Regions from separate parts of the Homo sapiens genome. Here region 1 is linked to region 2. The links come from fine-mapping of genetic effects on gene expression. A gene starts in region 2. The other region holds a variant in brackets. All regions are shown on one strand. Distances are from middle to middle.

What was found. PIP is the estimated chance that this variant, and not a neighbour inherited with it, causes the effect.
Region 1: its variant is fine-mapped to the expression of ST6GALNAC2 in whole blood (TOPMed, PIP above 0.99).

The regions. Positions count from the first base shown.
Region 1 is chr17:76,560,229-76,562,955 of GRCh38, reverse strand. SNHG16 (small nucleolar RNA host gene 16) reads right to left here. Exons shown (of 3, transcript NR_038111.1): 2 at 1,558-1,668. SNORD1B (small nucleolar RNA, C/D box 1B) reads right to left here and starts at 1,848; the gene lies at 1,763-1,848. SNORD1A (small nucleolar RNA, C/D box 1A) reads right to left here and starts at 1,323; the gene lies at 1,250-1,323. The variant T/C (reference allele first, on the strand shown) is at 1,454.
Region 2 is chr17:76,584,375-76,587,186 of GRCh38, reverse strand. It overlaps ST6GALNAC2 (ST6 N-acetylgalactosaminide alpha-2,6-sialyltransferase 2), which reads left to right and starts at 1,327. Exons shown (of 9, transcript NM_006456.3): 1 at 1,327-1,503. The coding sequence starts at 1,379. RefSeq lists enhancers at 1-340, 341-1,022 and silencers at 891-1,180, 1,231-1,570.

The DNA.
Region 1 (2,727 bases), 24 kb after region 2:
ACCATTTTGGTGCAGGCTGGTGGAGATCCAGGATGACTCATTTTAAGGAGACAGTATCTCTGAGGGAGCAGTTTCTGGTAAGAGGCCAGTAAACAACTATCAGAAAGCACTCCCTCTGGATAGAAACATTTCAAGTCAAATCTTATGGTTTACTTGAGTTCTGTAGTCAAGTCCACTCAGCAGACAATAACCACTTGATAAGCTACCCTTTTCACTGTTTTACTTGCAGGCTGTAAACTACTGGGGCCAGTTTTTAGGCTCATTAAATCTCACCCAGAATACAGCTTCTTTGGTGTCCAGCAAAAACACAACCTTAAATACAAAGAGTTTGCACACACCTCCCCTTTCTTTTTTTTTTTTTTTTTTTTGAGACGGAGTCTCGCTCTGTCACCCAGGCAGGACTGCGGACTGCAGTGGCGCAATCTCGGCTCACTGCAAGCTCCGCTTCCCGGGTTCACGCCATTCTCCTGCCTCAGCCTCCCGAGTAGCTGGGACTACAGGCGCCCGCCACCGCGCCCGGCTAATTTTTTTGTATTTTTAGTAGAGACGGGGTTTCACCTTGTTAGCCAGGATGGTCTCGATCTCCTGACCTCATGATCCACCCGCCTCGGCCTCCCAAAGTGCTGGGATTACAGGCGTGAGCCACCGCGCCCGGCCCACACCTCCCCTTTCAACAGAAAAGAAAGGCAATCTGTGTGCACTTCAAGCCTGGCATTCCAGTGGGAACAAAGCTGGGCACCCCACTCTCCAGCACCACTTGGTTTCTTTCTTGCTCACATGCCAGTCGTGACATTCAGACAGGATCTAAGCTACAAACTTAGGAGACCTCCCTGGCGTCCTTAACAAAGCACATAGAAACCAAACAGCCGTGGTTTCCCCTAAATGTCAGGACCCTGGAGCAGAGGCAAGGTCAGAGTCATTAAGCATTCTCATTGCCACAAGCTGGCATACATCCTACATTCCAATCTGTTTCTAAGAGCGCATTCATTTTCTTGAAATATGTAACAAGCACTTTCATTCCACAATAAGGGCATAAATCAAATCCTGGGTACTTGTGCATTCCTGCCACCTCATACAGCCTGTATCCTCAGAGCCATAATCAAAGGACTAGAGAAAGCAGGACAATCACTCATTTGCTTTTCACGTTTTAGAGGAATGATGCTCTAGACTGGGCTCTCAGCAGGATATGCTGAGGGAAAAAAAAAGGGGAAAAAAAACAAAAACAAAAAAAAAACCATGGAGCCAAACCCTTAAGCCTCAGAATAGATTATTTCCCTCAGTCCAGATTTTCAGACAGGGATAACTAACCATCATAGGCTTGTGGGACTTCTTACGGATACGAAAGATGTAAACAAATCTTACAAACAGGAAAGCAATCATTTCACTTGTTTCCGGCAAAGCAGTTCAGTTTCGTCTCTTATTGCAGACACCTAGCAACAAAATGCTACTAAAG[T/C]CTCCCTGCCCCCATTGCTTTAAGTCCAGAGCAGGGGAAGCAAAAAAGATTACCACTCCCCCAAACCAAACCAAGCCTGTTTACCAGTTCGTCTACTTACTCACATTAAAGACATGGCACTTTGGGTCCGGGTCCAGGTCCTGGTTCAGAGCAGCTGCCACACCGTGGCTACTAGAGGATCCTTTTCCGGCTTTGGAAACTGAGGCTGACTGCACCTGGGAAGAGAAATTAAGAAAAAAAACTACTTAAGAAGATACACACAGAGTAACTCTCAAGTAACTTAAAATTTCTGTAAGGCAAACTTGGGAAACTGAGTTTCAGATATTCAAATTCCACACAGAAAGGCCTTTCTTTGCCTTCAGACAGGGATAACTTGAAATCATCATGGACTCAGCTCCCACCAACCTGCTGGACCATAGCACTAACAGCCACAGCACACGCAAACTATTTTTTTCTCATCAAATTGTTCACTTCCCTCACGCAAATTCTTTGTGGAGCAAGCATGTGACTTTCTTTTTTTGAAAAGTAGTTTCACTCTTGTTGCCCAGGCTGGAGTGCAATGACGCGATCTCGGCTCACTGCAACCTCCACCTCCCGGGTTCAAGTGATTCTCCTGCCTCAGACTCCCAAGTAAGTTGGGATTACAAGCATGCGCCACCACGCCAGGCTAATTTTGTATTTTTAGTAGAGACGGAGTTTCTCCATGTTGGTCAGGCTGGTCTCGAACTCCCGACCTCAGATGATCCACCTGCCTCGGCCTCCCCAAGTGCTGGGATTACAGGTGTCAGCCACCGTGCCCTCCAGGCTTTCAGTTTTTTAAGACAGAGGATTAGAGATTTGCCCAAGAGCTACTTAAAAATAGCCAGCACTATAATCTCACTATAATAAAATCCTTGCACTAAAAACAGATCAGATCATCTACTTCAAGCTTGTCTAACCCACAGCCTGCATGTGGCTCAGGACGGCTTTGAATGCAGCCCAACACAAATTTGTAAACTTTAGGACGGCTTTGAATGCAGCCCAACAAATTTGTAAACTTTCTCAAAATATTATGAGATTTTTTTTTTTTAGCTCATCAGCTATCATTAGTGTTAGTTTATTTTATGTGTGACCCAAGACAATTCTTCCAATGTGGCACAGGGAAGCCAAAAGATTGACACCCCTGATCTAGTTACTACCCACTTGCTCTTGGACTGGCCACATGATTCCTGGACTCCACTCCAGAGCCATTCTCACCCATGCCTGGAGGTGAGGCCCAGGAATGTGTATATTTT
Region 2 (2,812 bases):
AGACTTCCTCGGATACATGAAGAACAGATTAGAGCCAAAGGCCCGTGACACGGTAGCCTAGGTCCCTCTCATCCTTGCAGCCTGCTGACAGTTGGGAGTCTGGGGCATGTCACAGCCTGCCGCATGTCACAGCTTGCCGAACAGTGGCCACTGAAGCACACCCATCTCATCCATCACTCACTGCCAGGGAGTGTTCCACTTAGAGAGCACGGGTGCTGAGCTTCCCAGCCCTTTCTGATGCTGGAGCCTGCTAGACCAGGGGTCCCCAATCCCAAGCCTGGTCCGAGACCTGTTAGGAACAGGGCATCGCAGCAGGAGGTGAGTGGAGGGGGAAGGAGCATTACCGCCTGAGCTCCGCCTCCTTCAGATCAGCCTCGGCATTAGAGTCTCAAAGGAGTGCGAACCCTTTTGTGAAATGCGCATGCCAGGGATCTAGGTTGCGGGCTCCTTATGAGAGCATCTTAACTCATGCCTGATGATCTGAGGTGGAACAGTTTCATCCCCAACCCCCCCACCCCCACCCCCCTCCGTGGAAAAATTGTCTTCCAGGAAACCAGTCCCTGGTGCCAATAAGTTTGGGAACCCGTTGTGCTGAACATTTCAGGTGGTCTCTCTGACTGGCCTCGTTCTGTGAAAGGAACTCAATGCGATTGAGGGGACTGGCCACCCTGGATGGTTACCAAATAAGCGCTGACAGCCTTAGCTCCCCCACGAAACCCATCACGGCAAGCTCCCCACCTCACCCCCTTTTCCCCCCTCTACCGCCAGCCCAGAGACTGAGCTGTCGGGTTTTGCTCCTCCACCCTGCCCGCCCCCTCCCAGCTGTCCTGGCGTCCGCAGACTGACAGATCTGAGGGTCCTTTGGAGGGAGCCGGGCACATCTCCTCCCGGCCGCCGCCCACCCGCCACAGAGTCTAGAGGCCGAGTGCCGGGCCCGCAGAGGGCAGAGCGCAGCCAGCGCAGCAGGTGGCGGCGTCTACCCGCGCCTAGCTAGCCCCGGACGGCGCGAGGAAAGCGCCCTGCCCAACCCGAGACTGGCGGCCTCCCGGGGCTGGGCTCTGGAGAGAGCGCAGTGGCAGGAGTGGCCGCTGCCGAAGTCCCCCGGGCAGGGGGCAGGGCCAAAGGAGCGCGCGCTCTGGGCGCCGGGACGACACTCCAGCCCCGGGGGACCCGCCGCCCAGCTCCCGAGGGTGCGGCAGCCTCTGGCCACTCAGCCGGGGCCGAGAGGGAGCTGCCGGGCGGGCAGGCGCCGCAGGCACCCGGCGGGCAGGGCGGGGCAGGGCAAGACGGCCGCCTCCGCAAGTGCCACCCGGCCCACCCGGTTCTCTCCCTTCTGCCTGGGACGTCAGCGGACGGGGCGCTCGCGGGCCGGGGCTGTATGGGGCTCCCGCGCGGGTCGTTCTTCTGGCTGCTGCTCCTGCTCACGGCTGCCTGCTCGGGGCTCCTCTTTGCCCTGTACTTCTCGGCGGTGCAGCGGTACCCGGGGCCAGCGGCCGGAGCCAGGTAGGGGCTGCCGAGCGCAGAGCGGGAGGGCGCAGGGGCGACCAGGGCGCGGGGAGGGTCCCCAGCCCAGGGCTCCCCGGCGGCCCGCAGCCCTCAGCCCAACCTCCGCGTGGACCCCTCTGGGGCAGCTCTCAGCGAGGACTCGGCCGCGGCCCTTTGTCGCCAGAACCCTCTCCCAGCCTTGACCTCGCGCTGCCCGGACCCCGCGGCCTTTGCCTGGGTCCAAGGAAGACCTCGCCCCTGTGCACTGGCGACCCGCCCCGGTGCCCCTTGTTGGTGAAGTCCTCCCCGGCCTGATAAGTACACTTTCTATTGTCGAAATCTGGCTGGGTCCCCGAAGCAGATAAAAACTTCCTTTTTTGTCGGGAACTCTCCCTCGGTAACGTCAGATTCTGCTTTTTGGGCAGGGGCCCAAGTCTCCGGTTTCCAACTTCGCGGGGACCCTCCGTCGGGCCGCGGCCAGTCGCCTTTCCCGCCCGCTGCGGTCTCTGTCCGCCCCGCGCCCGCTCCCTTCTCCCCGGCTTCCGCTCGCCGTGTCTGGATAAGCCCAGTGCGGGCGCGATCCGCGAAGAGGCGGGCGCCCGAGGGAAAGAGGGGTGACTCCTGGCTCCATCCGCGTTCTCCTCCCCGCGCCGCGTCCTGCGCTCCACTCCCTCCTCCTCCCTAGGCACTTTCCTGGGTGTCCCACGAGGAGAACCTGGGAGCCGGCCTCTAGCAGGTGGTGGTTCCGGTGACTGAAGAAGCCGCAAAACGATTTCGCTTAGCTTAAGAAAGGCGGACCAAGCCGTGCGAAGTCTGGGTTTGGGAGGAGGGAAGGGCCCGGCAGCCTCAGGGAGAGGCCTCCAGCCCCAGCCTTTCCCTTCCTGGAGCTTTTCCATCTGCGCACCCCCTACCAACCTTGCTGGGGGGCTAACGGGATGAAAACAAAATAAGTATCTGGTCTCCACAGATGCTGTCAAAGGATACACCAAAAGTTGCAGAACAATGTGAAACAGCTTGCCAGTGATCAGGAGTCCAGCACTCTTAGAACAAAGGGTGCTTGCCCCGCCACGGTGACTTAACGCCTGTAGTCCCAGCACTCTGGGAGGCGGAGGTGGGAGGATAGCTTGAGGCCAGGAATTCGAGGCTGTGAGCTGTGATTGCACTACTGCATTCCAGCCTGGTTGACAGAGAGAGACCCTGTCTCAAAAGAAAAGGAATCCTTGTCACTTTTATGTAAAGATGTTTAAAACACAAAGTATCTCAATGCAAAGAAATAATACATGTTTGATATAAGCCTGGGCAACATGGCGAAACCTCGTCTCTACCA